Linked DNA regions of Homo sapiens. The protein of the gene in region 1 interacts with the protein of each later gene in a biochemical or structural test. Each region holds a gene or a part of one and is shown on either strand. Other genes may lie near its edges.

Evidence for each region. The genes of interacting proteins can lie anywhere in the genome.
Region 2: of the proteins of DYRK2 (region 1) and NR1I2, one has a biochemical effect on the other in vitro, tested with the Homo sapiens proteins (one study listed by BioGRID).
Region 3: the proteins of DYRK2 (region 1) and DCAF1 form a complex in vitro, tested with the Homo sapiens proteins (one study listed by BioGRID).

What each region holds. Positions count from the first base shown.
Region 1 is NC_000012.12:67,643,887-67,651,757, reverse strand, and holds the start of DYRK2 (dual specificity tyrosine-phosphorylation-regulated kinase 2), read right to left. Parts: upstream 3,014-7,871; 5' UTR 2,625-3,013; coding exon 2,576-2,624; intron 1,962-2,575; coding exon 1,813-1,961; exon of another isoform or gene 964-1,812; intron 1-963. UniProt on the Homo sapiens protein: Serine/threonine-protein kinase involved in the regulation of the mitotic cell cycle, cell proliferation, apoptosis, organization of the cytoskeleton and neurite outgrowth. Functions in part via its role in ubiquitin-dependent proteasomal protein degradation.
Region 2 is NC_000003.12:119,777,519-119,785,100, reverse strand, and holds the start of NR1I2 (nuclear receptor subfamily 1 group I member 2), read right to left. Parts: upstream 3,001-7,582; 5' UTR 2,801-3,000; intron 2,392-2,800; exon of another isoform or gene 2,344-2,391; coding exon of another isoform or gene 2,249-2,343; intron 1-2,248. UniProt on the Homo sapiens protein: Nuclear receptor that binds and is activated by variety of endogenous and xenobiotic compounds.
Region 3 is NC_000003.12:51,420,016-51,427,037, forward strand, and holds part of DCAF1 (DDB1- and CUL4-associated factor 1), read right to left. Parts: intron 5,994-7,022; exon of another isoform or gene 5,895-5,993; intron 2,417-5,894; coding exon 2,292-2,416; intron 983-2,291; coding exon 1-982. UniProt on the Homo sapiens protein: Acts both as a substrate recognition component of E3 ubiquitin-protein ligase complexes and as an atypical serine/threonine-protein kinase, playing key roles in various processes such as cell cycle, telomerase regulation and histone modification.

The DNA.
Region 1 (7,871 bases):
TAAACTCTGTGGTCCTTGTAACCTTTCCTGTACTATGAAATCTGCTATGTTATAGAAATAAAATCAAAACTAAACCACCATCGAAACCCAAATTCACACCTTCAAAGTCAAGCATCTAATAATTAACAGCATACCGAAGTTTACACACACGTTAAAAACAAGTAAATCTGGCATATGCCACAGCAAAATACAGGCCTCCATTATGAGGAGTACTGAGAAGCACATTCGCATCCTTCCTTTTCTGGTGCACCACAGGCTCTCCCTCCAGTGGAGACTTGTCGTTTCATCTACTTTCATTACATGTATTTCAATTGCAAAGAGGCTCTGATCAAGCAAAGCCCATCCTTACAAAATTGGAATCCACATGCAAACCAAATAGTTCTTTTTCCAGCTCACACCATGTCATGTGATTACATCAACACATAGCAAAAAACTGGGTATTATATTTTCCAAATTGTCAGATGATCCCAAACAAAAAAATCCAAACCCCTAAAATCAATGGCAGTCCCTTAAATATCACTGTGACAAGAACACTTAACAGTAATATACAGAATCATCCATCCTACTATACCATCCACAGTCCAACACAGGTTAGTTAACCTCTGTGCAATGAATTCCCAGCCCCTGGGACCAGATGTGTCAGGATAGAGAGACAGACAGAGGGAGGGGGAAGATAGTAACAGCAACAAAACATTTTCCTACGAAACTTGCACACATCTCTCCAAGTCTAACAGGTGCAACTACAGTCTAGACATCCCCTCACAGTTCTCTGACAAACAAGTTTCCCCATAACATATGTCCCCAGAGCTACTCCCCTGTAGACCGGAGATGGCCTTTTCTTCAAGAACTCAACTTTCACTTAGCAAATAAAACCAATCCCTAGCAAGCCTCCCTCACACAGAACCATCTTAGGCTGTTCCTGTGGAAAATCCAATTGGGAAAAAAAGACCTCCAAACCATCACCTCCTCCAAGTGCAGACCTCCTCCAGGCTGGCCATCACCATCCAAGGGTGATCCCTGGGAGCTGAGAAAAGGTACATGCTTTAGTCGAATCCAGCTTGCCAGTCTCCGCAGCCACCAGCAACCAGTCCCACGCTGGCCTCTCCCCTCCCAGAGACCACAGCACCTGTTAGGTGCTTTTTCTTTCCCACCTCCAAAGCAACGCTTGCCCTTTCCTTTTGAATAATGTCCAACTGCAGAATCCTACAGGGGTGGCTTGTTTTGACTGCTGCGGCGGCCCTTATTTTTGTTAATGTTGATTACAATTTCTGCTGTGCTCAAACCTGTAGCACTCATAAAACATGCTTACACACGCGGGGGACAATTGGCGATGCTCCCTGCTGGCTGGAGCCAGGCCTGGGAGGCTCTTTGGGGGATCGATTTTCCGGGCAGGCCGGTCTGGCTGTCCCCTAACACGTATCTGTTTCTATAAATACCCACTACCCACGGGGAGGTGGGGGAAGGACAGAGATGTTTACCGGGTCAGGGAAGGGAACTCTGGGATGCAAGGACGAAAAATGAGGAAAGAAGGAAAGCAGCAAGGAGGAAGTTCCTAGGAAGAGGAGGTCATGGGTGGGCGAGCTCTGGAGGGGAAGTAAGGGGCCCACGCCACGAATCTTCCTTTGTGGCTGCAGCTTTGGGCTCGCCCAACTTAACCAGGGCGGCGTCGACGAGAGACCATCGGCCCGAGGCGTGGGGCTGCTTGTATCTCGACCCCTCTTCTCCCGGCGTCAGACCCCTCCAAGTCCGGGTGCTTCGGCCTGGGGCCCCTCCCGCCCCCACCGCCCGGGCCGCCCGCGGGCTGGGTCTCACCGTGTGGGCTGCGGCGGCAGCGTTGCTGGCCCGGAGAGGCGGCAGGGCGATGGGGGAGGGCGGGCCAGTCCCCACTCCGCTCCGGGTGGCCCCTGCACCGAGCCCCGGGGAAGCCTGAAGCTGACGAACGGCGCTGTCCCCACCTCGGCCTGGAAGCCACGTGCGGGAGGAGACAAAAGAGGGTCAGGGGGGAGAAAGTCACCCAGACCCCCCCTCCAACCCCGCTGGGCAGCGACAACCCTCTTCCAAAGAAAGACGGAGGAAGAGACCGGGGCAGTAAAAACGGGCGTTCGGGTCACGGCTCCCCAGCGCACACCCACGGGCGGGGCGCGGGCAGCTGCAAAGTTAAGTGGGGCCCTGGCGCGCGAGTTCGCGACCCGGCGGGGGAGCCGGGCCGCGCCGGGGCTAGGCGGCCCACGTTGCAGACGGCCAGCAGCCGGGAGGTGGGTTTGGACAGCTGAGCAGGGAGCCACGGCCACGCCAAGCCCCGGGCAGCGCAGGGCGGGGCGGCAGGCCTGGACGGTCCCCGCCCGGGCCCCCGGCAGGCAGAAGCCTCTTCGGGCCGAGGGCTCCCCGCGGAGGGGCCTTCGGGGCCGCGCACAACCCTGCATGGAGCCCGGGGCGCGTCGTCCGCCCGGGGGCTCCCCCGCGCCGCGCCGCCGACTTTGTTCGAGGTCCCGCAGGCAGCGGCCGCCCGCGCCACAGGGGCTGCCCAGGGCCGGCGGGGGTCCGGGGATGCGGCGCGGCGGCACGGCCTCCTTACCGGTCGGGTAGGCGGCGGGAGCGGCGGCCGAAGGTTTCCTGGTTAACATGGCCGCTGGAGAGGAAAATGCATTTCAGGGCTGCCGTCGCCGCCGCCGGTCCTGCTGCTACTTCTGGCGGCCGCCGCCGCCGCCTCCCGGCCGCCCCTCGCGCGGGTCCCCGGCGCCTCGTCGCCGCCTCGCGTCTGCTACAGCCAGACACACACAGTCCACTGCATCCCCTCGGCCGGGGCCCGCCGCCGCGAGCCCCCCGCTCTCCTCCTCGCCGCCGTCCTCCTCTTCCTCGGGCGGCTGCAGCACCCTCCGGCCCGTGCACATGCCTCGCCCTCCCCTGCGCGCCGCGGGCCTCCCCGTCTCCCTCACATAGGGGCGCGGGGAGCTGGAAGCGCTGCGAGGACCGAAGACCGCCTGGCTCGGGAGCCTCTCCCGGGCCCGCGCGCGCGCGCCCCCGCGCACTCACACACAGGCGCCGGCGCGCGGCCCCGCCCCCGCCGCCCTCCGCCGCCCTCCTCCGCCGCCGCAGGCCCCGCCCCCGGCTCCCCCGGCCGCGGCCACGCACACCCCACCCCCACCCAACCTCCCGCCCGGCTCCTCTCAGTCCCCCGGTTTGCGCGCAGCCGCCCCTCCGCTCCCCGGAAAACTCGGCGGCCTCCGCTCGCCCTCCTCCGCCCCCTCCGGCCATCTGCACTGCTTCCCTCGGCTCCACTCCGGCGACCTTTTCCCCTCCCCGGCCCCGCGGCGCCCCTTCTCTGCCCTACAGCTCAACCTACCGCTGCTGCCCTCCGGCCGAAAGCGCCGCAGAGACCCCTCCCCTGCCATGCGCACCCCTAAACATAAATGCATTTTCAGCTCTTCGAACTGAATGGCTGCTCACAGACAGTACTGCTTCCCCGTCCCCCCATTCTTGGTCCCAGCGACTTAGCCACTCCCCTCTCCCCAATTCATCATGTAGATAACTTAGTTGTGCGAGGGTCACCTCGGAGAGGCAAGTCCCGGGAGGGGCGGCCGCTGAGCTCGTTGACCCTGAGCAGGGGCGAAAGAGGGGGCTGCCCTCCCACCTCCACCACACACCCTCCCCGGTTTACTGACACCAAGTGACCGCTCGCCAGTCGCTAGGACAAGGGGAGGCAGAGAGGCGCGTGTGGACGGCAGCTGGGGAAGCAGTTGGCTGTGGGTTGCTAGGCAAAAATAAACATCAGAGACATCTCCTATTTCCTTACAACTCCGAGCCTTTCCCCTGCGCGGCCACTGGGAGAGACACACCTTCCTTTCAGCTCTGCGGTGAGGGAGCGACACCTCGAATTCCTCTCACCCCACCCGACACATCTCTTTCCCCCTTCCCTTCCAAGACACGTGGAGAATTTCCCTGCCTTTTTTATTCGCCATATACAACCTCTCTTTTCCTTGAAGACCAAAAAAAAATTGCTTTCCCGTCTCACATCCGCGCCTCGTCGTGCGTGGCACACAGTGCGCCTCTGTTCAAAGGTCACAGGTTTTGCCACTTCAACTGTGAGAGGAGGTGGGGTGGGAAAGCCCGACAAATCCCGGATGACGGGGCAGAGTTATGCCATGCACTTCCTTCTCGAGAGGTGCCTAGTTTCTGAAGTTCTCTTGGGGCCAGGGGTCCATTATGCTCTGCCCCGCCCGAGTATCTCTGGCTCCTGGCTGGACCTACTGTGCAGGCCCGAACTAGTGCAGACTCCAGTCGGAAGGGAGCCACCTCCTGCGGAGTTTCATCCACTCTACTGTTTGCAAATTGTCATAGCAACCTCCTACAGAGCGCATCCGCAGCTTTATACAAACGCCAAAAACTGTTTCAAGGTACAGTGTGACCCTCTCAGAGTCTCTGGGACTCCTAAAGAGGCCTCCAAGTTAGGGTCACTGGGAGAGGGAACCTGTGACAAAAAGAATTTTCCCTAGTATTACGTCCCTCCAAACAAAACAAAACAAAACAAAACAAAACAAAACACCCTTTCGGGGCCTTCTCCTAATAAAGTAGACCCACAGTAAAATAATCCAATAATATGCCTTTAGAGGAATCATGACCTGAACTGACCCTAGCAAGAAATATCCCCCTATGCTTGTCACTGGCGACCATCACATTTAAATCCACATGCGGAAGCATATTTAGTGTTTAGAATCGACTAAAAGAAAAGGGCTACTAAGTAGCAGAGATGACACTAGAACCGGTTTTCTGACTCCCAGTCTGATTTCACTATGACTTCCATCACACTACTTTCCTTACACTTTCAAGAAAGCTCACACCTCTTTTTTCTCCTTTCAAAACAATTATTTTCATACCATTTTCCTTTTTAAAATGAGTACTCCATACAACTGATGTTCAAATAAAAAAATGAAACAAAAAAATCAATTTTAATATAATATGACACCCCTTTTTGCTTAAGTTATTCGTACAATACTTCAGTAGAAGCTAAATATGCCACTGTTTTCTCATGAATAAAATAAATGCTAGTTACTGGAAGCCATAGTTTACGATTTCCAAATTAGTAATATTAATTTACTCATTTAACATGAGGAAAAGGAGCACTGATTCTTTTTTTTTTTTTTTTTTGACAAAGGATCACAATCATTAACTTTAAGAAAGAAAAAGACAATAGGGAACTTTTTGTAGTATATTGTTTTATATCATGACAAATATAATTTCAATTTTGTATATTTTTTGTGGCTTAACATAAGGAAATATTGCAGTTGACCTACCCCATAGCTATTTTGATTATAAATGGTACATCTTTGAAAATTATATTAATTTTTACTGACCTCTAAGTGACTATTAACCATTGCTTAGATTTTCCTCATTCTGTTAAATATTCTATTAAATATTGACATCTCCCTGAGTGAATGTTAAATAGAAAAGCTGTACAAACACACTCCTGGGGCTTTGGGGAGAGTGAAGTGGGTAAATTTGGGGAGTTATTTCCCTCAAATTTTATTATCATAATGCATCATTATCAATTATCTCATATAATTACACATATTTTGATCTCTTTATAAAACACTTTCACAAATATTACCATGTTTAATCTTCATAACTCCACCAGAGCAGATTTCATTTTAAATAGGAACCTCCTTAAAAGCTTCATTCAGTTAGCAAGAGACTGCTCTTTGGTTTTCACCCATTGTAAAAACTCTGTGTGTTCTATATGTTTAAAATCCAGATTCAGATAACAAGGAGGTAGGCAGGATCTAGCAGGAGTAGAGAGAAACAGGAGAACTCAGAATAGAGCCTTGAGGAAGAAAGTTGATTTTTCACTGGGCAAAGTACTGATCACAAGGAAAATTGGAAATGAACATAAAAATTGCTGGTTTCAAAACACATTTACTCATTTAATCCCCTTATCCCAGAAACATTTACAAAGAATTTAGTATGTGCTAGGCCTAGGAGACATGATGAATCATCAAATGCAGTAGACTACACTTCAGTCTGGCAATCTATTAGGAACTCATTCTTGTTTTGTTTTGTTTTTGTTTTTTTGAGACAGAATTTCACTGTGTTGCCCAGGCTGGAGTGCAGTGGCACAATCTCAGCTCACTGCAACCTCTGCCTCATGGTTCAAGTGGTTCTCCTGCCTTAGCCTCCCGAGTAGCTGGGACTACAGGTGCCCACCAACACGCCTAGCTAATTTTTGTATTTTTTGTAGAGACGGGGTTTCACCACGTTGGCCAGGCTGGTCTCCAACTCCTGACCTCAAGTGATCCACCTGCCTCGGCCTCCCAAAGTGCTAGGATTACAGGCGTGAGTCACCACACCTGTCCAGGAACTCATTCTTTTATTCAATTAAGCAATAAGCTATAAGAACCTAACATATTTTTGGCACCGTTGGTGGAATGTTATGGTCTGAATGTTTGTGTACGCCCCAAATTTATATTTTGAAATCCTAACCCACAATGTGATGGTATTAGGAGGTGGTTAGATCAAGTGACTGCAGAGAGTTAGTAGCCTTTTCCACCATGTGGGGACACAGAGAGCAGGCACCATTTATGAACAAGGAAACAGGCCCTCACCAGACACTAAATCTGCCAGCACCACGCTCTTGAACTTTCCAGCCTCCAGAACTGTGAGAAACAAATTTCTGTTTGTTACAGTTACCCAGGTTATAGTATTTTGTTATAGTAGCCCTAACAAACTAAGACATGGGGCTACACAGTTAAATAATCCCTGGCTCTGGTCACTGCTACTAGGAAGTTCACAGTTCCGTACGGGAGACCAGACATTTAATGAAGTGAAAAGAGTGGTAAAGAAGGCATATAGGAGTCACAGAGATAGCACACAGGAGAGAGGGACGAGCTCCACTTAAGTGGTGTCTGGCAGGGGCTGTGCTTCAGTGGAGGTTTTAAAGACGCGTGGGAATTTGCAAGTTAGGCGAGACAGGTTAGGACATTCCAAGTGGAAGAAATAGGATGTTCAGAAGCGTCAAGTTGTAAGAAAGCATGATGTGTCCCAGGGGAAGGGGAAGCAATTCAGAATAGAGGAAACTTGGGGTGCCAGGCAGAGGGGTGGTACTGCTATCTTCCTAGGGTTAGGTTTATGGATAGATCAAGTCAGGTTAAGAATTATCCTAAACTTGGCCAGGCATGATGGCTCATGCCTATAATCCCAGTGCTTTGAGAAGCTGAGGAGGGAGGACCAGGAGTTTGAGACTAGCCTGGACAACATAGCAAGACCCTGTCTCCACAAAAAAAGTAAAAATAAAGAAATATTCTAAACTTTATCTGCTATGGATATGTGAAAACAAGGTGCAGGGGCTTTTGGAGCAGCTAGATAAATTATTAAGGAACTGACTCATTTTGGTGAAGGTGGATCTAACTCCCTTTAAGAGAACACCAGGCCAGGTGCAGTGGCTCATGCCTGTAATCCCAGCACTTTGGGAGGCCGAGGCGGGTGGATCACTTGAGGTCAAGAGTTTGAGACCAGCCTGGCCAACATAGTGAAACCCTGTTGCTACTAAAAATTCAAAAAAATTAGCCAGGCATGGTGGCGGGCACCTGTAATCCCAGCTACTGGGAGGCTGAGGCAGGAGTATTGCTTGAACCCAGGAGGTGGAGGCTGCAGTGAGCCAAGATTGTGCCACTGCACTCCAGCCTGGGAGACAGAGTAAGACTCCATCTAAAAAAAAAAAAAAAAAAAAAAAAGAGAACACCACTAACTGGCGGTACCTTCTATGTCTCCATCACCAAGGTCCAGAACTACCTAGAAAAGAATATGAAGACCTTATGGCCTAAAGTCTACTAATGTAAACTTTTCAGAAGTAGGAGGCATGGCCGTCATAACCAAATGGC
Region 2 (7,582 bases), on another chromosome or scaffold:
CTGAATGGCAAAGAAAAACCAATAAGACACAAAAAATTAAGGTTTGTAAAGATTGGAAAGGAAGGAGCAAAACTCTTACTATATATAGATGATATGTTTGTCTAACTAGAAATTCCAAAGGAATCAACTGATAAGCTTTTATAACTATTAAGAGAATTCCATAAGGTAACTAGGCAAAATATCAAAACACAAAATAGATTTTCTATTTATTGGGGGAAAAAATCAAGTAGAAAAGGTAAACATTATAGTGGAAATTGGCTCAGGAATAGGAAATAAATACAAAAGGACACAGAAATGGACATGTGTAAGTGGGAATTTAGTACATGATAGAGGTGATATTTCAAACAAATAGGAAAAAGATGGACTTTTCAATAAATAGTATTGAAATAATGTATTGCAATAAGTGCCAGGTGAATAAAGACTAACTTTTTAAATAAAAGTATTACAGGAAGGTGCACCAAAGTAGCTTCATAATTTTGGAAGTTGAGAAATCTTTTAAAAATCAGCCTCAAAGAGTAAAATCCAGAAAGAGGGAAACTAACAGATTCAACTACATCAAAATAACAACAACAATAATAGTAAAAATTTCTGTTGGCTAAAAAGTATGATTTAAACAAAGCTTAGAGAGAATATTACACACATATCAAATAATTTGCATTGAGAATAAATAAAAAACTCCTACAAAGAAGAAAAAAAATCCGACATAAAATAAGCTAAGGATATGAATAGGTAATTTAAGAAGAGAAATACAATGGCCAAGAGGGGTCCTATAAAAAGAATGCTCAACTTCATTAATAATCAGGGAAATTAAAATATTGAAATAATGGGTTGTCATTTGCACTAATTCAATGGAAAAAATAATAAAATACTGAATAAACAGCAAGCATTGTTTGGAGTGTGGAGGAACAGTAACTATCCTTCTCTGCTGGTGGGAGTACAGTCGGTTCGGGTACTGTGGAGGGCTGTTTGGCAGCCAAAAATTGAACCACATATATCCTGTGATGTGGCAATTCAACGTCTTAGTAGTTCCTCTAGTGCAATACGTGCACATGTCTAGAAGCAGACAAACACAGTGAGGTTCATTGGTAAGACTGAAAAATTGGAAAAGCTTAAATATCTATCGAAAAGAAAACGGCTAAATAAAAGAAGTGTACACTGTGAAATATGACGTAGCAGTTAAAATAAATGAAGTAGAGCTCTATACAGATATGGAAAGTCTCCAAGTCTTGCTATTGAGTGGAAAAACAGAATTAGAACAACATGGCAACAGATAGGTTTAATAGTCCATCTATGCATAGATGAACACACACACAGACACAATGGTCTGGCAGTAAATATATCACACTAAGTACTTTTGGGGAAACTGGAGATTAGGATTGACAGAATGGCCAAAGGTGAATTTAGGTTTATCTATACTGCTTTCTCATTTTCAAGGAGCATGAAATCATGTATTACTTTATAATTTAAAAAGTTATTACCTAAAAAACCTAGTCTAGTCAGTTTTGTGGTTGTCTTGGGTTTATTCCATAATAATTTTGGAACAAGTTGACAGCTTTTAGATCAGGAGTTGGCAAACTTTTTCTGTTAAAGGCCAGATAGTTAATATTTTAGGCTTTGTGGGCCATACTGTCTCTTTCGCAATTGGTCAATTTTGCTGACTCAATGAATCAGCTATAGCAGGCACTATTCCTCTCCCACATGGCCTCTAATGATATGGCCAGAGTTGAAAGGATGTTGTAGGGCAAAAACAGCCATATACAATACATAACGAATGGGCATGGCTGTGTTCCAATAAAGCTTCATTTATAAAAACAGCTGGTGGGCCAGAGTTAGCCTGTGAGCCATAGTTTGTCAACCCCAGGTTTAGACTTTTATGACATAACTAAAATATTTTTAAAGCGTATTTGTGTACCACAAAATACTTTTTCCCATTAACCAACTGATTAAATAAGCCTCTGAGGCCTCCCTTAGCATCCTTTCAACTCTGACCATATCATTAGAGGCCATGTGGGAGAGGAATAGTGCCTGCTATAGCTGATTCATTGAGTCAAGACTCAGTGGCCTCAGAGGTGTCTGTTGACCTGTCCTAGATATGGAGTGGCCTTAAAGCAGTGCCTCTGGCCATAGCTTCAGCCGAGCTGGGCTGTAAAGTGGAGAGAAGAAGGACCTGGTGGCACTGACCACATGCAGGCAAGACTCGGTTCTGTGGGACAAGGTGCCCTTTCAATAGTAGAGGTAGAAAACTCACTGGTTTGAAGCCAACTCAGCCGCAGCACTGTGCAGGGGTATGGCAGGTGCTCTGAGGGACCCCTCCTTGAAGTGGTGAGTCCTGGTGACTGTCATGCTGCTGTCCTTGGCCTCAGGGGGCTGCCAGCACTAACCCAGCAGGCCAAAAGGAATCAGGACTGAGTTGATCCCAGTTCCCATAGTCCCCAGCTCCCACAGTCCTTGGAGGTGGTATTTCCTGGGTCCAGGGACTCCAGCCCTGTAACAGGGAGCTGGTTGTATGTGTGACTTGTGGTAACTCATGCAGTAGTTAAGGCTTCTCCTGTGGTGATTTTTCTAGGAGGCTAGTGCAGGACCAGAGAGCATCAGTAATGGGGCTCAACATTAAGTGATTGTTTTCATGCTTTTTTTTTTCCACCCTAGAAATGAGGAGACAGCAGCAAGGCCAACATGATTCACGACCCACTATGATGCTGACCTCAAACAGAAGGTATATTTGTGTTCACACACATCTTTTGGCTGGAGCTGAAGGGCGGTCAGCCCCCAGCAAAAGAGAAAGAAAGAAAAACCATACCTGCTTGGTGGTAAGTTCTTTGCTCCGACTTCTCCCCTGGGGTCCACTTTGAACAATCCGGTGCAAAGGATCGATCAAGGAGTAGCTTTACCAAGGAGCCGCTGCCTTGTTCAGGACAGGAGTATTAGCTTATTCTCTTGCTTTTCTCACTGTGAACACTTGGCTTGCAGGCTGAGGCCGAGATTCCCACTGAAGTAAAGGCAGTGCTTCCTCTTCCCGTCCTAGTCATAGGTTATGATTTCCCCGGATATGAGACAATCTTGTCTCTCACCTATATTTCAGTCCAAGTCAGATGTAGGCACTAAGCGGCTCCATTGCCCCTCCTAAGTCCCAAGTCCAGCACTTGAACTAGCAAATGAAGAGATTACCGTATTTGTTCTCATTATGTTCTCCCTACTTTTTTCTTTCAGGTCTCTTCACTACAAAAACACAGGAAAAGGGGAAGAGAGTGGCAAATATCCGCTTTGTCTAAGTAATTCTGAGTGCATTTCATCAGTCTGAGGGTCTCTGTCCTTTACCACTAGGGGCAACATTAATTTGAACCTAGATCTCCTTATACTTCCTCCTTTGTTGAAACCACCTCCCTGGATAGTGTTACTTGATGTGAAAGTGAGCAAAGTATTGATTTATGACGGTGCCAATCACCAGCATGGTTATGTAAGAGGGGGGCAGGCACACAGGGAGAGGGAAAGGGTGTGAGATGAGGGGGCTGAGCACAGTTCTCGAGAATGTGACCCCACCACTTTGATCTCAGAACAGAAGGCTGACCAGGAGTGGGGAGGATGGACCAGCTGAGGGCTCTTTCCTCTCCCGGGTCCTGCCAGAGGGGAGCTGAAGAGTCCTCACTCTTCAGCCTCAACCTTCTTATTCCCTAGCAGCAGGTGCTCCCAAGTGAACAGAATCAACAAAAGCCGAATGTGGTGGATACCAGGATGTGTTTCTTCTACTTGCTTTGTTTATAAAGATGCTTTATGGCAGGTGAGGGGAGTGGAAGTAACTGCTCCTACCTAAAAGGCAAACAAGTACAAGCCTCTGGCAACAGTAAAGCAGGGGCATGGGCCCCAACAAGAGAGGGAGAGGGAGACCACGATTGAGCAAACAGGTAGAAAAGAGAACCTGGGATTGCCAAAAAATGACCACAGTTGTCTTCAGGTGAACATTTGGACTTCCTTACATTTATTTATTGACTTAAGTTGTTATTATTTTGAAGTACATGCTTTAATCCAGCCCTGGTGAGAAAAGCCAGAATATCTAAGTATGATTTGTTTGTTTTGTTTTTAATTGGTTTCTTCTCTATCCAATTTGCACTTCCCAAGGGATGAGAAAGACTTGAGGCTGGGATTTCCTAGGGGTTGACATTTCTCAAGTGGATGCTTGCCTTGCTGTTTTCAACCAAGCGCAGAATGTAAGGTGCTTACACAGCTCACTGCTGGGGACTTACTGCCAGCAGTGGGGACTGGGACCCACAGCCATAGAGCTCTGTCCTTTTTCCAGTCACATTTCTGATTATCCACATGGGATTCTGCTAGGGCTAGGAGGTATTGGATTACAAATCCCACTGGACAGAAAGTTGACTTGGGCCTTAGGCAGGGAGGACCTAGAGTAAGTGAAATATTGAATGTCATGAGGATATTGGAAAGAAAAAGAGTAAGTGAAATACTGGATTTCAGTACCAGTGGAAGTAGCCTGAACAGTGTGCTCTGGGGTAGGAGGACAGCATGGGGCTATATCTGGGGCCTGCAGGTCCCCTGAGAAACACAGATCAGAAGGCCATGGCTAAAGCCAAAGAGGGTGGGAAAGCTGGAAAGGGTTAAGAACTCACCCCAGGAAACTTATTTCCAAGATCAAAAGTAGGCCTTTCTGCACTGACAGGTATCTCCAAGTCCAGGGAAAAAAGGCATGACTCCAGCTCAGGTAGGCCACCTTGCCAGAAGTCCTTAGGTTATGGGTAACATACGTAGCTTTCATCATCTCTCAAATCCCTTCTGGCTCACAAGGGCCTGACCTTCTCTCTCTTAAAAATATAGTGAATTATTTACAGCAGAAACAGGAAACTAAGAACAGATTATGAAACCACTGAGGTAAAGGAAATATTCTCAGGTTTCTGCAGGGATCTTTGGGTCTCTTTTCCTTTGGGTCTGTGGTGTGAAGTCCCAGCTAGAAGACAGGAGAAGGCTGTAGGAGTGCCAGGCCTCTCTAGTCTAGCACTGCACTGTTAATATCAGACATGGCTCTATAGTGAAATGAGTTAAGAATACAGCCAGAAAATACACTCTCGTTCTTAAGGACAGCTTACTAATGCCCTCAGTTGAGGGCCAGAGTCACTCTCAAGCCCAGCTGGGAAGTCAGAGAAATTTGAGGCCTTGACCTCCATTCTATACTTTGCCTATTGCAGCAACCAGAAATGTAGAGCTCCTAAGAAACTCATCAGAGAAAAGCAGATCTGATCAGCCTGAAGAGTTTCTTTTTTTTTTTTGAGACAGTGTTTTGCTGTGTCACCCAGGCTGGAGTGCAGTGGCATGGTCATGGCTCACTGCAGCCTCAACCTCCTGGGCTAAAGCAATCCTCCCACCTCAGCATCCCAAATACCTGAGACTACAGGTGTGTGCCACCATGCTTGGCTAATTTTTTTTTTTGTTTTTCTTTTGTAGAGACGAGGTCTCATTATGTTGCCCAAGCTGGTCTCAAACTCTGGGGCTCAAGCAATCTGTCTGCCTTGGCCTCCCAAATTGCTGAAATTACAGGCATAAGCCATTGTACCTGGCCAGTTTCCTCAGTGTGAATTCATTTAATGTTTTACCCCTCTCCAGAGAATATTAATATTTAAAAAGAGGAACAGAGAGAACAAAATAAAAGAGTGATGCACTGATGATATAAATTCAGGTGGAATCTGAGGAAAATAGGTGTTTATCAGCCAGTCACATGGTCTTTCTCAAAAATCTCTTAGCCTCCCTCTGGGGTGTGCTCAGGGGCACTTAGGGCAGGAGCATGGAGGTGACACTCTGATCCCCATGAGGCAGTCTTGGAGGAAACTTCTCCCTTTTCATCCTTAAGTGGAGGTAGTAGAAGTTACCCAAAAAGGCTAGGAATAGGAATCTTCTCTTTGAAAGCGGTTTCATTTTATCACAAGTAGAAGCAGTGACACAAAGTTTAACTTCCCAGAAATCGCAGATTCCAGCAACTGGAGGACCACTAAATTTGAGCACCAGCTGTTCCAGATCCTATAATTACTCTGAGGCTCCATAAATTACACTTGTGGTCAGAATTCCAATGTCTCTCTTAGAATTTTGGAACACTTTGTTTTCACCTCATTTGTAAATTACACTGCAGAATATGGTATCTGTGACTTCCTGCCTTAGTTGCTTATAAGCCCCCTGAGAGGAGAAGCCCTTATATCACCTGGTACCAATTGCATTTGGTGGCTGCTCAGTTCAGTGTAGTAATTCTTTTAAATATGGTTTTTACTAATATGCTTTAATAGAGTTCTGCCTTTATTGAAGAGAAGAAAAAGGACCACCTTGAGAGGACCTTCCCTGCAGCTAGCTCATGCTACTACTAAATGAAACTCATACTTACTTTTGATTTATTATTAAATGAGTTAGCTCTTAAATGTGTGAAACCTCTTTTCATTTTTAGGCTTTAAACTTGTAATGATGGCAAGTGTCATGATGAGGATAAATTACCCTTTGACAGCAAAGAGATAATTGGGTATTTGGTATATATGGAATTATCTAAAACTTATTTGGAATTATACATATATTTTCATAAATCACTATAATGTTTGAGAGGGATAAAGGGATTGAGGGGAAAAGGTGCAAATCTGGAATCTGGTAACACCGCAATACCTCTTCCCAGAAATATTAATATGACAGTTACCTTCTCTCAACAGCTGTTGCTGTCAAGTTTCTTTGCTCCACAATATTATATTAGAAACTCTTGAATAAAATGTAAATTGAGAGGTCATACAGGAAACAGCTGAGAGTCAAATCATTTCTCAGAAAAATTGTTCCTATTCTATGAATAGACATCCAAACACTGACCACATTTACATCTATTGTTTAGTCAATCAATTAGACCTGTTTTGTCTCTGTAAATGGAAACACAACACTAATTCCCAGAGCAGGTATTCAATAAATTAATTCAAATATTTAAGTGTCTTAAAATTGCTAGTCACATTTTATGTATTTATTTTATTTTTATAAGGTACAATTTATCAGTCTTTACTTTTTTTTTTTTTTTTTGAGATAGGATCTTGTACTGTTGCCCAGGCTGGAGTGCAGTGGGGGCAATCATGGCTCACTGCAGCCTCAACCTTCCAGGCTGAAGCGATTCTCCTGCCTCAGCCTTCTGAGTAGCTGGGCCTACAGGCACATGTCACCATGCCCAGCTATTTTTTTCTGGTAGAGACGGGTTTCCCTAGGTTGCCCAGGCTGGTCTTGAACTCCTGAATTCAAGCGATCTTCCCACCTTGGCCTCTCAAAGTGCTGGGATTACAGGCATGAACCACCACACCCAGCCAACATTTTTTATTCTGGTAAAAAATACATATAATATAAAATTAACCATTTAAATCATTTTAAGTGTACAATTCAGTAGCATTAATTATAATGTTTTGCAACCATCACCACTATTCATATCCAGAACCCCTTCATCATCCCAAATAGAAACTCCATCCATTAAGCAACTCCCCATTGTTATCTTCCTTGAGTCCCTGGTAACCTCTAATCTACTTTCTATCTCCATGAATTTGCATATTCTAGGTATTTTATGTAATTGGAATCA
Region 3 (7,022 bases), on another chromosome or scaffold:
CTGTAGGCACCATGGTCCGACTTCTGCCGCAACACTCTGATTTTCCTGCCATTGCAGGGTGATGGCCTCTCTCTGATAAAACTGATTCTACCAATCAAAGGGGAGTTGCCTGCATAAGATGGGCCGGGCAGAGCTAGCGGACCCTGGGGGGGCCGTGGCTGAGGATGAGCAGTAGGGGCAGAAGGCGCAGAGGCACCCACAGCAGCATGGCTGCCCAGACGAGTTGCAATGCCATTAGCGATACGAGGGGTTCGGGGTAGAGAGACAGGAGAAGCAGCAGCAGTGACTGGGGTAAAGGCAGAAGAATGGGAGGCAGCAGTCATGGGCAGGTCAGCCTCTTTTGTCAGCACGGTTGCTGTTTCTCCAAGCCCTTTAGAAATAAGATGGTTTCGTATCAACAAAAGCAGCTCTTTCTCAGGGAAGGAGATCCTTGACTGGGCAACAACATCTGCTTTCTGCAGTCGTGCTAGGGAAACATCAGTGCCAATGAGAAGTGGTTTTCCTGACACCCGTTCAATGAGTTCAGCAGCATACTTGCAGAACTTGACATGGTCACTGCGCTTGTCCTGCAGCACAGGCTCCTTCATCAGCTGCTGGATCTGGCAGCTGCTGAAAAGGGGCAGTTTACTGATGATCTGCCGGACAGTGCTACTGCGAGACAGGCCCACTAGGGCTTTGCAGGCCAGGGCCCGGATTTGGTCTGCATCTGTGATGGGCATCTTAATGGACAGTAAGGACAGGAGCACCTTGATGCCGTTGTTGGACTGAACCACATTCCACATCTTGGCCAGGGTGTGCTCACTGCTTTTAGGGTTCTGAGGCAGCTTTCTCCGAGGAGTACCAGAGATAAATTTACCAATACTGGATATTCGGTTATCTGGGCCACACACACAATTGATGATAATCTGAAGTGCTGACTTCTGAATTTCAGCATCATGGATGAAGAACTCACCCTCAGCCACTCCCAAAATAATGCTGATACCTAATGGGAAAAAAAATTATGTATTATTCACCATAAAACTAATGGCCAACTTCAATAGTTGTTCCAGAGTCAAAATTTGGTGTTCTACTCACTTTTACTTTAAAAAACTATATTACTTTTGTAAAAACTGCAAGGGTTTGTATAAAGTGCAGACAGTTCTACTACAATGTATTTTTATGGTATCTCATATGCAGTTATTAAATAGGGAAATCATGTCATAATTATGGAAAAGTAATCAAGGTTCATGTGCAATTTTTTCTGGTTTTATTATTTTTTTGAGGCAGAGTCTCGCTCTGTCGCCCAAGCTGGAGTGCAGTGGCGTGATCTTGGCTCACTGCAACCTCCGCCTCCCGAGTTCAAGTGATTCTCCTGCCTCATCCCTGCAAAGAGCTGGGATTACAGGCGCCTGTCACCACGCCCAGCTAATTTTTGTATTTTTAGTAGAGGTGGGGTTTCACCATGTTGGCCAGTCTGGTCTGGAACTCCTGACCTCAGGTGATCCACCCGCCTCGGCCTCCCAAAGTTTTGGGATTACAGGTGTGAGCCACTGTGCTCGACCTTTTCTGGTTTATTAATTTTAATACACTAAAACCTTAGGAACGGAGAAAGCCCTCGGTTGGGCTGCTACTGTGGAAGCAGAACCCTTTCCACTCTATTTTAAGAAAATTAAAAACCAAGTGCCTGTGTCTTAGTCCTATCCTGCATCTTGTCCCATCACACGACTTCCCATGCTCACCCCAGCAGTGCCCTGATCAGCCTTGCTCTTAATAAAGTATATTATCAAAGTATATTTTCCTTTTTTTATATATGTATGACGGTTTCTACCCATTTTGAGCTACCTGCCAATTACTGACTCAGGTTACAAAACTGCTTACTTTGTTGTTTTTTTTTCCCTTTAACTCCTGGAAAGCTGTGATGCTTAAGTTTTTTACTATCTGCCTCAACCCATTTTTCCCATGAACTTTATTTTTAGTGCAAGACTCTTCAGAGTGTGAGCTTTTCAGGAAAGCTATAATATACCATTATAGCAGAAATGCCAGTACCACTCAGAAAACCTGAGTTTACTAGCATGACTCCCTTACATCAAACTATCTGGTCCTACATTTGTATTTTTGTTTTTTGGTTTTTTTTTTTAAATTAGTTCCTGATCTGCTGAATGGTACTCCTTATAAAGGACAGACAAGGAGCCCCCCTCTACTACTTCTGTTCTAAAATCCAAAATTAGGTCAGGTAAGTAACCAAGACCAGAGTGGCAAAGAAAAAACAAATCCAGACCAAGAAACAACAAAAATGGCAAAGTACAACCTACCTACAGTAGAGACTGTAGATCCAGCCTCATCCAACACGTCCACTGATTCTGCCAACTGGAGCTGGATTTTTGGCACCACAGTAAGAATAGCCAGGACATCCAAAGCAAAGCGCACAGTGTCATTCCTGGACAGGAAGAATTAGTCAAAGGGAAATTAGAGTATAGCCACAAGAATCAAGAGAGACAGAGAGAGAGACACACAGACAGATAGACACATACACACAGAGACAATAAATCAGAAGCACTACCAGTGTGGCTCTATCTCAAGCTGTCGCATCAAGAGAGGATTTTATAGTCACCATGACATTACTTCCAAAAAATATAGCAATGGAATTTTTACCTATTAAACTTCTATGATAAAAAACATAGAATAATCCTGAATCCTTTCATCCTAGTGAAAACATATAGAGACACGTACTCTCAAAGTTTTGGTGAGAGTAGAAATTAGTACACTCTTTCCAGAAAGTAATCTGGAGGCCAGGCACGGTGGCTCAAGCCTATAATCCCAACACTTTAGGAGGCCAAGGTGGGAGGATCACTTGAACCCAGGAGTTTGAGACCAGAATGGGCAACATGGTTTTATCTTTTTCTATAAAAAAAAAATATAAGATATTAGCCGGGTGTGGTAGCACGTGCCTGTAGTCCCAGCTTCTCAGGAGGCTGAGGTGGGAGGATCACCTATGCCCAGGAAGTTGAGGCTGTGGTGAGCCGTGATTACACCACTGCACTCCAGTCTGGGCAACAGAGTGAGAGCCTGTCTCGAAAAACAAAAAAAAAGAAAAATGAAAAAAAAGAAGAAAAAGAAAGTAATCTGGAAATATGAAACAAGATTCTTAAAATGTTCATAAACCTTGTCCTAGAAATTTCACCTCTGACAATCTGTCCTAAAGAAATAATCAGGCCAGGGCCAGGCGTGGTCTCATGCCTGTAATCCTAGTGCTTTGGGAGGCTGAGGCGGGCAGATTGCCTGAGCTCAGGAGTTCAAGACTAGCCTGGGCAACATGGCCAAACCCTGTCACTACTAAAATAAAAATTAAAAAAATAAATTACCCAGGCTTAGTGGCGGGCGCCTGTAGTCCCAGCTACTCGGGAGGTTGAGGCAGGAGAATTGCTTGAACCCAGGAGGCGGAAGTTGCAGTGAGCTGAGATTGAGCCACCGCACTCCAGCTCGGGCCACAGAGAGAGACTCTGTCTCCACAAAAAAAAAAAAAGAAAAGAAAAAAGACTCAGGCCGGGTGCAGTGGCTCACGCCGGTAATCACAACAATTTGGGAGGCTGAGGCAGGCGGATGACCTGAGGTCAGGAATTCAAGACCAGCCTGGCCAACATGTTGAAACCCCATCTCTATTAAAAAATACAAAAACCAGCCAGGCATGGTGGTGGGCATCTGTAATCCCAGCTACTCAGGAGGCTGAGGCAGGAAGAACTGCTTGAATCTGGGAGGCAGAGGCTACAGTGAGCCAAGATCACACCACTGCACTCGAGCTTGGTCAACACAGTGAGACTCCGTTTCAAAAAAAAAAAAAAAAAGAAAGAAAGAAATAATCAGAAGAATTTATGTATTAAGATGTTCATTAGCCACATTAAAATAGCAAAAGAATGAGAAAACCCACATAGACAAGAGCACCATATGTGTTAGAGTATAGTACACTCATAAACTACAGCCATTGACAATCATTTTCAAAGAACCCTAAAGAATGAGGGAAAGGGTTCAAAATACAACATTAATGATATAAAAATAAAAAATGTAAGATATAAAATTAAAAATCTGACAATACCAAGTACTGGCAAGAAAGTAGAGAAATGTTGGATGTCTTTTGTAGTTAAAAAAGAAAAAACCGGCTGGGTGTGGTGGGAGACCAGGGCAGGTGGATCACGAGGTCAGGAGTTCAAGACCAGCCTGGCCAATATGGTGAAACCCTGTCTCTACTAAAAATACAAAAATTAGCTGGGCATGGTAGTGGGCGCCTGTAGTCCCAGTTACTCAGGAGGCTGAAGCAGGAGAATCGCTTGAACCCAGGAGGCGGAGGTTGCCATAAGCCGAGATTGCACCACTACTGCACTCCAGCCTGGGTGACAGAGCAAGACTCTGCCTCAAAAAAAAAAAAGAAAAAAAAAAGTAGAGAAATGAAAGCTCCTATATATTGCTGGTGGGGGATGACAATGGTATGAACATTTTTAGAAGCAATTTGGCAATATCCAATAAAGGTAAGAACACAGACACCCTACAAACCAGATGCTCTACATCATATCCTCAAGAGAGCCTCCAAAAGGAGGTTCATGATACCATTTATTTAATAGCCAAAAAAACCAAACAAAAACACTAAATTAGCCATCAATGGCAGAATAAACTGCAGTATAGAAATACAGCATTTTAAATAAATATCAACATATATAAATCTCAAGAATATAAGGGTAAAAAAAGCAAGCTGTGAAAGATGAACTTAGGAAAATATTTATAATTTAAAAACATGCAAAGCAGTATGACGTTATTATTTATGAACACACAGATATATATAGTATAAAAACATGAGTGGGGAGAATATGGTTCAAATTCAGAAGATGGGTGACTCTGGGGAGGCAGAAAAAGAACTGAGCCAAAAGCAAATACAACAACATGCCAATCCTGGTTAATGATGGAGCAGTTGTTAAACTATTCTCTGTGCCTTTCTATGTTTTGAAAATATTCATAAAAAAGATGAATTTGATTAAAAGTATAATATTAATTATGTGTATTTGCAAATATTACGTAGTGAATGCTAAGAGTAATTTTCTTTTCTCTTTAAAAGATTCTGCATATTCTAAAGCAGAAACATTTATTAATTTTATTTCTAAAAATAAATTTTTAAAATCAAGGACATATTTTTTCAATAATCCAAATACAGGCCGGACCGTGTTTCATGCCTATAATCCCAGCACATTGAGAGGCTGAGGCAGGCAGATCACTCAAGGCCAGGAGTTCGAGACCAGCCTGGCCAACATGGCAAAACCCCGTCTCTACTAAAAAATGCAAAAAGTAGCTGGGCTTGGTGGTGCGTGTCTGTAATCCCAGCTACTTCAGAGACTGAGGCACAAGAATCACTTGAACCTGGGAGGTGGAGGTTGGAGTGAGCCAAGATCCTGCCACTGCACTCCAGCCTGGGCAACAGAGCAAGACTCTGTCTCCAAAACCAACAAAAAAATAAATAAACACAGATGTACCAGTTTAAAAAATGTATTTATACCCTTTCTAGTTATCTTGTAAGCTGTCATCTTTTTTTTTTTTTTTTTTTTGGAGACAGAGTCTTGCTCTGTTGCCCCGGCTAAAGTGCAGTGGCACCATCTTGGCTCACTGCATTCTCTACCTCCTGGGCTCAAGCAATCCTCCCACCTCAGCGTCCCTAGTAGCTGGGACTACAGACATGCGGCAACACACCAGGCTAATTTTTTTTATTTTTGGTAGAGATGGGGTTTCACCATATTGCCCAGGCTGGTCTCGAACTCCTGATCTCAAGCAATCTGCCCGTCTCAGCCTCCCTAAGTGCTGGGATTACAGGTATGAACCACCACGCCTGGCCTATCATCACTTTTTAAACAATTCTCCAAATAAATATAATAACCTACTTTTCCAATATTCTAAAACAGCACTTCTCAAAGTATAGTCTGGAGACCTCTAGAAGTCTGAGACCCTTTCAGAAGGTCCTGTGAAGTCAAAGCTATTTTCGTAATAATAAGATGTCACTTTCCTTTTGCACTCTCATTCTCTCATTGCATAGTAAGAGAGTCTTCCAGAGATGATGTGATGTCACAAAAACTGAATACAGAAGCAGATATGAGATATTAGGCCAGACATTTTTTCAAACTTGCTAAAATTATCTGGTTTTATTTTGGAAATTTTTCATGAATAACGCAAACATGCAATGGGTTCACTTTTTTTTTTTTGAGATGAAGACTTGCTCTGTCGCCTAGGCTGGAGTACAGTGGCGTGATCTCAGCTCCCTGCAACCTCTGCCTCCTGGGTTCAATTGATTCTCCTGCCTCAGCCTCCCAGGTAGCTGGGACTACAGGTGCGTAACACCACCCCCGGCTAATTTTTCTATTTTTAGTAGAGATGGGGTTTCACCACATTGCCCAGGCTGGTCTCAAACTTCGGACCTCAAGTGATCTGCCCACCTCGTCCTTCCAAAGTGCTGAAATTACAAGCATGAGCCACTGTGCCTGGCCCACATTTTTAATGCATAAATATTTTTACATTTTCTGTTTTAATTTCTAATACTGATAGATATAACACAAAAACAAAAGCCTTTTAGAGTTCTCAGTAATTATTAATATGGTAAAGGTATCTTGAAACCAAAAAGTTTAATAACACCTGCTCCAAGAGTACCTTACAATATTTAAATGCTGGGATTTAACAAACTTACTATATTCCCCTAAATAAGCCCCTCTCTTATCTTTATGGCAGTGAGTGAATAGGAAAAGAAGGTCAAGCACTCTGTTTATAAACTTTTTTACTATCTTCTCTTAAGACCCCATCTTTTTCAAAACAGTTTTATTTCTTTTTATATCATCTTCAAATAGAACCTACCCAGTTTCCTGATTACATCAGCCACCCTTTTCTGGGCCTTGTCCTGCTCTGCCTTAAACTAATTTGTGAAAATCCTAACAGTATGTCGAATTCCAAGAGTAAAAGGACAATTTTATATGAACGTAATATAAACATTATATATGGTTGTCAAGTAGTAGCAAGACACT